Regions from separate parts of the Homo sapiens genome. Here regions 1, 3 and 4 are each linked to region 2. Evidence: fine-mapped expression QTL. A gene starts in region 2. Each other region holds a variant in brackets. All regions are shown on one strand. Distances are from middle to middle.

Region 1 (2,760 bases), 32 kb after region 2:
ATTGCTTGGGATTCTTTGGGTGGTGTTGGGGAGGTGTGAGCAGAGTCCTGGCTCACCGAAAAGGGGTGTTAGCAGTTAAATATAGCCTTCAAGAAAGGGAGTCATATCCTGCGTTTAGAGTGTGAAAGAGGATAGTTTAGTTCAATAAATTTTGCAAGTTCCTGAACTGTCTGCACTTACGCTGTGGGTTTATGAATTGTGTGTTAATATTTTCTTTAAATGTATGATTTCTCTGTAGCTAATACTTAAGACAGCTTTTTTGTTTGTTTGTTTGTTTGTTTTGAGACGGAGTCTCGCTCCGTAGCGCAGGCTGGAGTGCAGTGGCGTGATCTCTGCTCACTGCAACCTCCGCCTCCCAGGTTCAAGCGATTCTCCTGCCTCTGCCTCCCGAGTAGCTGGGATTACAGGCGCAGGCCACCATGCCCAGCTAATTTTTGTATTTTTAGTAGAGATGAGGGTTCACCATTTTGGTCAGGCTGGTCTCGAACCCCTGACCTTGTGATCTGCCCACCTTGGCCTTCCAGAGTGCTGGGATTACAGGCGCGAGCCACCACCCCCGGCCAAGACAGCTTTTTGAAAGTTAAGAAGAGGCTTCTCCCAGCATTTGGGGAGTCTGAGGTGAGAGGATCACTTGAGGTCAGCAGTTTGAGACCAGCCTGGGCAACATGGCAAGATCCCGTCTCTACAAATTTTTTTTAAAAATTAGCTGGGTATGGTGGCAGGTGCCTGAAGTCCTAGCTACTTGGGAGGCTGAGACAAGAGGACTGCTTGAGCACAGGAGGTTGAGACTGCAGTGAGCTAAGATGCCACCACTTCACTGTAGCCTGGATGACAGAACAAGACCCTGTCTCTTAAAAAAAAAAAATTCTTTTCCGTTAAGAAATATTTTTCAGGAATCAGGGGCAAGTCAGGACAATGAGAGGAGCCCCTTAAAGAGGGAGTCTTGAAATCTGTAGGTTATAAAGTGATATATATATATATATTTTTTTTTTTGAGACAGAATCTTGTGCTGTCACCCAGGCTGGAGTGCCACGATCTTGACTCACTGCAACCTCCGCCTCCTGGGTTCAAGCAATTCTTGTGCCTCAGACTCCTGAGGAGGGGGGATTACAGGCATGCACCACCATGCCTGGCTAATTTTTGTATTTTTAGTAAAGACAGGGTTTCATCATGTTTGCCACGCTGCTCTTGAGCTCCTGATCTCAAGTGATCCACCCGCCTCGGCCTCCCAAAGTGCTGTGATTACAGGCATGGGCCACCA[T/C]GCCCGACCTACAGGTTATGAAGTGATTTTGAAGAGACCTGATGGGCTTTAGATTTGGTAGGGAAGCCAGGGAGAGCCTCACCCCGGGTAACCTGGGAGAGAGAAGGGTGTTAAATGCAACCTGTGAGACTGAGCAAGTATTGTAGGCTCAAAGCAGAAAGACTGTGTACTCTGGAGACTTCTGATGGAGTTTGAAAGAAGAGAGTTTTTAAAATTTTTTTTTCTATTTTTTAATTATTTGTAGAGACAGGGTCTCGTTGTGTTCCTAAGACTGGCCTCAAACTCCTGGCCTCAATGGTCCTCCCACCTGGGCCTCCCAGAGTGCTGGGATTACAGGCATGAACCACTGTGTGTGTGTGCTCAGCCTGAAGGAAGAATTTTGTAAAAAAGAATTGGATAGAGATTCGGAGAAGCAGCTAAACAGATCAAGGAAGAGAATTTGGTGCAATCATAGACTGGAAAAAAGTTAGGACTCTTATGTAGGAAAGAGAGGCCAAAAACAAAGCAAAAACCCATAAATATTTGTTGACAATAATTTTATGATATGGCTGTGTTAACTATGAAATTGTTTATAGGCCAGGCACAGTGGCTCACACCTGTAATCCCAGCACTTTGGGAGGCCCAGGTGGGCTGATCGCCTGAGGTCGGGAGTTCGAGACCAGCCTGACCAACATAGAGAAACCCCGTCTCTATTAAAAATACAAAATTAGCCGAGCATGGTGCTGCATGCCTGTAATCCCAGCTACTCGGGACGCTGAGGCAGGAGAATCACTTGAACCCAGGAGGCAGAGGTTGCGGTGAGCCAAGATTGCACCATTGCACTCCAGCCTTGGCAATAAGAGTGAAACTCCGTCTAAAAAAAAAAGGGGGGGAGGAAAAGAAATTGTTTATAAACCAAAGTCATCCTCATACATAAAAACTGCCTTAGCCAGGTGCAGTGGCTCACACCTATTATCCCAGCATTTTGGGATGCTGAGGCAGCAGATCTCTTGAGCCCAGGTGTTTGAGACCAGCCTTGGCAACGTGGCAAGACCCCGTCTGTACAAAAAATGTACAAATTAGCTGGGTGTTGTGGTGCATGCCTGTAGTCCCAGCTACTCAGGAGACTGAGATGTGAGGGTCACTTGAGCCCAGGAGGTCAAGGCTGCAGTGAGCCATGATCATGCCACTGCACTCCAGCCTGGGCGACAGAAGGAGACCCTCCTAAAAAACTGCTTCCTTATACAACAGCTAGTTAACTCACAGGACTGAGTTTTGTGAGAGGCTATTTGGGTAGAAAATATAAGTAAGTTCAAGGAGGACACGGGCCTCTAAGGCAGGGGTTCCCAACCCCCAGGCCACAGGCTGGTTGGGGGGCCTGTTAGGAACTGGGCTGCACAGCAGGAGGTGAGAGATTGGCAAATGAGCAAAGCTTCATCTGTATTGACAGCTGCTCCCCATGGCTTGTAGTATCACCTGAGCTCTGCCTCCTGTCGGATCACTGGTGGCATTAGATTCTC
Region 2 (2,760 bases):
CTCTACGAAAAATACAAAAAAAAAAAAAAAAAAAAAAAGAAAAAGAAAAAATTAGCCGGGCGTGGTGGCATGCACTTGTAGTCCCAGCTACTCAGGAGGCTGAGGTGGAAGCATGGCTTGAGCCTGGGAGGCAGAGGTTGCGGTGTGTTGATCGCACCACTGCACTCCCGTCTGGGCAACAGAGAGAAACCTCGTCTCAAAAAAAAAAAAAAGAAAGAAAAGAAAAGAAAAAGGACACGAAATTGTGATACGACAACTCTGTGAAGACTACTAGATACATTACAAAATTTTTAATAGTAGTACTCTACGTGGCATTCTGGTAGAAATGATTTCCTTTCCTCAAACTCCCCATAATATTGTTACATGGTTTTTATACGGTCTGGGGGATGGGGGATAACATTAAATGACACCTTTTATGTTAAATCACAAACGCTGGAGTCAACAAAAGTTCTTTAAATTCCTCCAGCAGTAGAGCAAACTTGGTATTCCAATTCCCTCCAGGCTTTGACCAAGAGCGCACACGAGGGCCACCGCCTTCGTGATCAGAAGCGGGTATGACTGGGCACCGGTTGGTCCACTGCGGCTGTTCCAAGCTGCCCCCACAGCCTCACCCCAGGACTCCACCAGGAGCACAGGGAAGGGGTCCCCGAAAGTGGGCGAGGTCGCTGCCCGGAGGTAATGACCACTCCAAGGTCACCATGGAGAACCCGCAGACAGGGCTCGGTGTGGCCCAGGACTCCCCGACTCTTAAGTCCAGGTCTCACTCTCTGCGCCGCGCCGCGCCCCTCGCCCCATCCCGAGCAGCTACCCCGAAGCTCCCAGGGGCTCCGCCGAGGCGAATCCTCACATTGCGGCGTGGTGGCCGACAAAACCCGGGACCCTGATCTTGGCGCCTCCACGCCACCGCCCGGAGGCCAAGACCCCCGAGCGCCGCAGCATAGCGTAGCCCAGACCAGTCACCTCATCCTTTTTCGCCCTCTCAACCCAGCTTTTCCCGACTCCGGGAAGAACCGGGAAGAGAAGGCGGAGGGGAGCGAAGCGCCGCCTGATAAATACTGTGGCCCAGTCCCGCCCCCCTAACGTCACTTCCGCCCCGCGCCAAGATGGCGGCGCCCAGGCCCTGCCACGCAGACTTCCGCCCGGCGCGGAGACCGAAGGCTGGCGGCTGGTCGCGTTGCAGGTGAGGTTGTGACGCGCGGTGTGGAGCCGCGGCCCGGGTGCGTCCCTGTCTGGTTCCTGGGCGGGGTTCCTGGAGAGGGCGTGTCGCGAGCCAAAGGCTCTCACCTGGGTGGTCCCGGGAGTCTCGCCACGTGGGAGGGGAGGAGCTGAGAGGCCACTGGAGGGACGCACCGACTGGGGGACCGGAAAGCAAGGGGGTGGGGTTCCGCCAGGGTCCGCGTGTCAGTCCCCTCTGGTGATCTCGTCGCCCCTTCTCTCCCAGGCAACATGTCGGAAGGAAACGCCGCCGGCGAGCCCAGCACGCCGGGAGGGCCCCGACCTCTCCTGACTGGGGCCCGGGGGCTCATCGGGCGGCGGCCGGCGCCTCCCCTCACCCCCGGCCGCCTTCCCTCCATCCGTTCCAGGGACCTCACCCTCGGGGGAGTCAAGAAGGTACCCAACGGCGCGTTTCTAAAGAAACTCAACTACCTTGAATTCCAAGCCCCAGGATTCAACTAATGTTTGTGTAGGACCTACTGTGTGTCAGGACTGTCGTTGGGCCTCTCAAGCCTACCCCTCTTTAAATTCTAGGGAGTCTGTCCTACCTTCAAATCTAGGTACTGAGTACAAGATGTTGAAATGACTCCCAGAGGTGGTTGAAGGGCAGAGAATCCTAATAAGTTAAAGTCGTTCAAAAGCAATTTGAACAGTGTTTATTTACTTTTATTGTGTGTTTGGACATCTTTAAGAAACCCATGAAAGCCAGACAGGCATAAACTTCGCAGTCTTAGAGGGTTCAGAATTCACCATCTCTGTGTGCAAACTTTTTATCTAGAGTATGATGAATCCTAGGTATGGCATTCGAGGCTCTGTGGCCTCTCCCATGTGTATATGACTGTGGATGTCAAGAGTAGCCCAGAAAGGGGTGGGGTCAGGATGACAGAAGAACAAAGCAGGTTTTGGTTTTGGTTTTGGTTTTTTTTGAGAGGAAGTCTCGCCGTTGTCCCCCAGGCTGGAGTGCAATGGCACGATCTCAGCTCACTGCAACCTCTGCCTCCCAGGTTTGAGCGATTCTCCTGCCTCATCCTCCTGAGTAGCTGGGATTACAGGCGCCCGCCACCATGCCCAGCTGATTTTTGTATTTTTAGTAGACACAGGGTTTTGCCATGTTGGCCAGGCTGTTCTTGAACCCCTGACCTCGTGATCCGCCCGCCTGCCTCGACCTCCCAAGGTGCTGGGATTACAGGTGTGAGCCACCGCTCCTGGCCGAATAAAGCGGTTTTTTGGTTTTTTGTTTTGTTTTTAAGGGAATCTCTTTCTGTCGCCCAGGCTGGAGTGCAGAGGCACCATCTCAGCTCACTGCAACCTCCGCCTCCCGGGTTCAAGCGATTCTCCTGCCTCAGCCTCCCGAGTAGCTGGGATTACAGGGGCCCGCCACCGCGCCCAGCTACTTTTTGTAGTTTTTAGTAGAGACGGGTTTCACCATCTTGGCCAGGCTGATCTTGAACTCCTGACCTCGTGATCCACCCACCTTGGCCTCCCAAAGTGCTGGGATTACAGGCATGAGCCACAACGCCCAGCCATAAAGCAGTTTTTAAAAAC
Region 3 (2,500 bases), 46 kb after region 2:
CTTTGGCAGTTTTTGGTTTTCTTTTAACAAGATTGTTCTCAATATAAAAGCTGTCTTCTGCAAAGAGCACAAACATTTCTAACCGTTCAGACTTCCAAAGGCAAATGTAGCTAAGAATAATGGAACATAATTTTATTACTCTTCTATTAGAAAACTCATACTTGCTTTTTATTTCAGGGTAATGAAACTTTTAGATATGAAGCTTGTGGGGAGAAACTTTTATGACCCTACAAGTGCTATGGTACTACAGCAACACAGGTTGGTACTTTTTTCCCTTCCCTCACTTTTGAATGTTCTGGAAAGAAAGTTTCCATTACAACCATTGTATTTAGTACTATAATGTCAGCAGTAGTTTATGGTAGTGAATACAGTTTATCAATTAAATCTCTTCCTTAGTTTGGTTTTTCAGTAAGTTTGCAATAATGTCAATTAACTTAGTTTCTTGAGGCTTTCTCATTACTATTAGGGAAGGGCAGTATCACCTCAATGTTTTGTTCACATGGGGGCATGGAAGTATATGTGTTCTTTGAAAATCCTACAGTTGAGACCACCTCTCTCTCCAGATTGCAGATCTGGCCAGGCTATGCAGCTAGCATCCGAAGGACAGATGGAGGGCTCTTCCTGCTAGCTGATGTCTCCCATAAGGTCATTCGGAATGACTGTGTGCTGGATGTCATGTGAGTGAATGGTGGGGTCTATCTTTAACATGCTGATGATTTTCTGAAAAGTTCAGTAACAGCTGGTAATAACACACATTAGACATTGTTCTGTTTGTTTGTTTTTTCCCCCAGAGACAGGGTCTTGTTTTGTCACCCTGGCTGGAGTACAGTGGTTTGATCATAGCTCGCTGTAACCCTGAACTCCTGGGTTCAAGTGATCCTACCACCTCAGCCTTCTGAGTAGCCAGGACTACGGGTGTGCTACCATGCCCAGCCAATTTTTAATTTTTTTTTTTTTTTTTTTTTGTAGAGATAGGGTCTTGCTATGTTTCCCAGCCTGCTATGTTTCCTGGCTTCAAGGGATCCTCCTACCTCAGCCTCTCAAGGTGTTGAGATTATAGGCATGAGTCATGGCACCCAGCCCTGTTTAGATTTTTAGTTGTAGAATAACTGAACTGAATATATGTGCCCTCGTCTCTAGTCCTCCTGAGATAAGCATCTGAATAGACATCTGCTGTGCTTTGAGAAGGAGTTTTGTTTAAATTTGTGGTTAGGAGAACTTGGTTTGATATATGCGCATGCTGAGTTTGCATATAATAATATACAATGTATGTGTTACTGTAGTAAATACAGATGTGTATATATATTTTTTTTAATTGAGACAGAGTCTCACTCTATCACCCAGGCTGGAGTGCAGTGGTGCAATCTTGGCTCACTGCACCCTCTACCTCTTGGGTTCAAGTGATTCTCCTGCCTCAGCCTCCTGAGTAGCTGGAATTATAGGCGCCCGCCACCATGTCCGGCTAATTTTTTTTTCTTTTCTTTTCTTTTTTTTTTTCTGAG[A/G]GAGAGTCTCTCTCTGTTGCTTAGGCTGAAGTGCAGTAGTGTGATCTCAACTCACTGCAACCTCTGCCTCCTGGGTTGAAACAATTCTCTTGCTTCAGCCTCCCGAGTAGCCAGGACCACAGGTGCATGCCTCCATGTCTGGCTAATTTTTTGTATTTTAGTAGAGATAGGGTTTCACCATGTTTCCCAGGCTCGTCTTGAACTCCTGAGCTCAGGAGATCTGCCCGCCTCAGCCTCCCAAAGTGCTGGGATTACAGGCACAAGCCACCGTGCCCAGCCAGATGTGTATAATTTTTAGTGGTTGCATGAAATCTCATCTTACACATAAGTCTGTACATCTGATTTTTTTAGGCCATGTACTTGGAAGTAGAATTACTTAATGGAAGGGCTGAACATTCTAAATCCTTTTAATATATATCTAATATAATATGATAGTTAACTGTATCTTGACAAATTACCCTGTAGAAGATTTATTCAGTTTCTTTTCCCACCAGCTATGTACAACCACTGGGTGTTATCGGGCTTGTAAATCTTTGCTCCTCTGACCATTTCATTCATTGCTTCAGTGTATACTTACTGAGCTCCAGTTATGAACCAGAGTCTTAGGACCTATCAGATAGCAAAACAAAGATCCCTCCCCTCACAGAGCCTCTGTTGTTACCAGGGGAGATGAACAGTAAATAATAAATGTAATAAATAAATTGTATAGTGTAATAAAAGCGATAAGAGCCATGGAAAAAAGAAAAAGAGCACACGGTCAGGGCAATCAGAAGTAGTGGGGCAGGGGGCGGAGAATTGCAGTTTTAAGTGGAGTGGTCAAGCTCATTTGAGCAAACGCTTGAAAGAGGTAAGAGGTTAGCCAGGTGAAGGGAGAAGAAGCTTTTGGCATGTGGACAGCTCAGGCACAGACCTTAAGACAGAAACAGGCCTGGTGCAGGCACATGCAGGGTGGCTAGAGCCGAGTGAGCAAGCAGGGTGATGGAGGGGCAGAGCAAATG
Region 4 (2,500 bases), 98 kb after region 2:
TTTTGCAAAAATTAAAACAAATTATAGACCTATGTTTAAAATGCAAAACTCTAAAACTTACAGAAGATAACATAGAAAATCTAGGTGGCTTTGGGTTTGGTGATTACTTTTTAGATATGATGCCAAAAGCCCATGAAAGGAAAAATTGATAAATTTTTCATCGAAAATTCATCGAATTTAAAAACTTCTGGGAAACACTGATAAGAGGATGAAACAACAAGCCATGATTAGGAAGAAATATTTGCAAAACACGTATCTGATAAAGGACTGTTATAAAGTATACAAAGAACTCTTAAAACTCAACAGTAAGAAAATGAACAACCCAATTAGAAAATGAGCAAAATACCTCAACAGACATCTCACCAAAGAGTATAGGTAGATAAGGCCGGGTGTGGTGGCTCACATCTGTAATCCCAGCACTCTGGGAGGCCAAAGCGGGCAGATCATGAGGCCAGGAGTTTGAGACCAGCCTGACCAATGTGGTGAAACCCCGTCTCTACTAAAAATACAAAACTTAGGCCAGGCGCAGTGGCTCACACCTGTAATCCCAGCACTTTGGGAGGGGCCGAGGTGGGCTGATCACCTGAGGTAGGGAGTTCAAGACCAACCTGACCAACATGGAGAAACCCCGTCTCTACTAAAAATACAAAATTAGCCGGGTGTGGTGGCGCATGACTGTAATCCTGTAATCCTGGTGGCGCATGCCTGTAATCGCAGCTACTCGGGAAGGCTGAGGCAGGAGAATCATTTGAACTTGGGAGGCAGAGGCTGCAGTGAGCCGAGATTGTGCCATTGCACTCCAGCCTGGGCAGCAAGAGCGAAACTCCATCTCAAAAAAAAAAAAATTAGCTGGGCATGGTGGCGCATGCCTGTAATCCTAGCTACTCAGGAGGCTGAGGCAGGAGAACTGCTTGAACCAAGGAGGCAGAGGTTGCAGTGAGCTGAGATTGTACCACTGCACTTCAGCCTGGGTGACAGAGCGAGACTCCGTCTCAAAAATAGGTA[G/A]ATAGATAGATGGCAAATTAGCATACAAGCAGGTGTTCAATATCACTTGCCCTTAGGGAACTGCAAATTAAAACAATCAGATACCACTACACACCTATAAATGATCAGAATTCAAAAACTGGTAATGCCAAATGCTGGTGAGGGTGTAGAGCCATAGGAACGCTCACTCACGGCTGGTGAGAATGGAAATGGTACAACCACTTTGCAAAACAGTTTGGCAGCTAATTACTAAACTAAATGTGCACTTACATACACATACCAACAATCACGCTCCTTGATATTTTCCCAAATAAGTTGAAAACTTACGCCCACACAAAAACTTGCACGTGAATGTTTGTAGCAACTTTATTCATTACTGCCAGAACTTGGAAACAGAGATGTCCTTCAGTAGGTGAGTGGATAAACTGTCATGCATCCAGACAATGGAATATTGTGTTAAAAGAAATAAGCCATTAAGCCATGAAAAGACATGGAGGAATCTTAAATACATATTGCTCAGTGAAAGATGGTAATCTGAAAAGGCTTTATATGATTCTAACTGTATGATAAATGGCATTCTAGAGAATGCATAAATGTGGTGACAGTAAAAAGTGGCTGTCAAGGGTTTGGAAGGGGGAGAAAGGAATAGGTGGCACACAGGATTTTTAGGGCACTGAAACTAGATAACATTATGCATTTGTCAAAACCCATAGAACTGTACAACACAAATATGTAAACTGTGGAGTATAGTTAATGTATCAACATTTGGTCATCAGTTGTAACAAGTGTACCATAATGCAATATGATAACAAAAGGGGAAACTGTTTATGGGTGGGGATAGGAGGTGGGAGGAGGGCATATGGGAACTCTGTTCTATTGCCTCAGGTTTTTTTGTAAACTTGAAGATTCCTCTAAAAAATAGTCTCTTAATTTAAAAACATACAGACACACAATGAGGTACCATATCGTATGCACGAGGATATCTAAAATTTAAAAGAGGCCAGGTATGATGGCTCATGCCTGTAATCCCAGCTCTTTGTGAGGTCAAGGTGGGAGGATTGCTTGAGCCCAGGAGTTTGAGACTGCCTGGGCCACATAGGGAGACCCCTATCTCTACAAAAATAAAAAATGAAAATAAATTATCTGGTCATGATGGTACACATCTGTGGTCCCAGCTACTCAAGAGGCTGAAGTGGGAAGATGACTTGAGCCTGGGAGGTCAAGGCTGCAGTGAGCCGTGATTGTGCCGCTGCACTCCAGCCTTGGTGACAGAGTAAGACCCTTTTAAAGAAAAGATTAAAATAAAATTTAAAAGACAAGTAATAAAAGTCTTGTCCAGGACATGGAGAAATTGGAAACTTCATAGATTGCTAATGGGATTGTAAAATAAAATAATGCAGCTACTTTGGAAAACAGTTGGGCAGTTCCTTAAAAAGTTAAGCATGCCGGGCTTAGAGGTGCAAGCCTGTGGTCCCAGCTACTCTTAAAGATAAGGTGGAAGAGTCACTTGAACCCG

Evidence for each region. PIP is the estimated chance that this variant, and not a neighbour inherited with it, causes the effect.
Region 1: its variant is fine-mapped to the expression of POLR3D in whole blood (TOPMed, PIP 0.99).
Region 3: its variant is fine-mapped to the expression of POLR3D in whole blood (TOPMed, PIP above 0.99).
Region 4: its variant is fine-mapped to the expression of POLR3D in whole blood (TOPMed, PIP above 0.99).

Annotation. Positions count from the first base shown.
Region 1 is chr8:22,276,052-22,278,811 of GRCh38, forward strand. The region is part of intron 1 of PIWIL2 (piwi like RNA-mediated gene silencing 2); the gene reads left to right. Among named protein-coding and RNA genes, the nearest start is that of PIWIL2, 2.1 kb to the left of the region's middle. RefSeq lists an enhancer at 1-190. The variant T/C (reference allele first, on the strand shown) is at 1,262.
Region 2 is chr8:22,244,004-22,246,763 of GRCh38, forward strand. It overlaps POLR3D (RNA polymerase III subunit D), which reads left to right and starts at 1,130. Exons shown (of 9, transcript NM_001722.3): 1 at 1,130-1,180; 2 at 1,442-1,611. The coding sequence starts at 1,447. MIR320A (microRNA 320a) reads right to left here and starts at 1,034; the gene lies at 963-1,034. RefSeq lists enhancers at 905-1,572, 1,040-1,109, 2,234-2,403 and a silencer at 1,420-1,599.
Region 3 is chr8:22,289,670-22,292,169 of GRCh38, forward strand. PIWIL2 (piwi like RNA-mediated gene silencing 2) reads left to right here. Exons shown (of 23, transcript NM_018068.5): 9 at 178-258; 10 at 564-677. Among named protein-coding and RNA genes, the nearest start is that of PIWIL2, 16 kb to the left of the region's middle. RefSeq lists an enhancer at 2,034-2,203 and a silencer at 2,367-2,500. The variant A/G (reference allele first, on the strand shown) is at 1,503.
Region 4 is chr8:22,342,604-22,345,103 of GRCh38, forward strand. The region is part of intron 20 of PIWIL2 (piwi like RNA-mediated gene silencing 2); the gene reads left to right. Among named protein-coding and RNA genes, the nearest start is that of SLC39A14, 23 kb to the right of the region's middle. The variant G/A (reference allele first, on the strand shown) is at 1,006.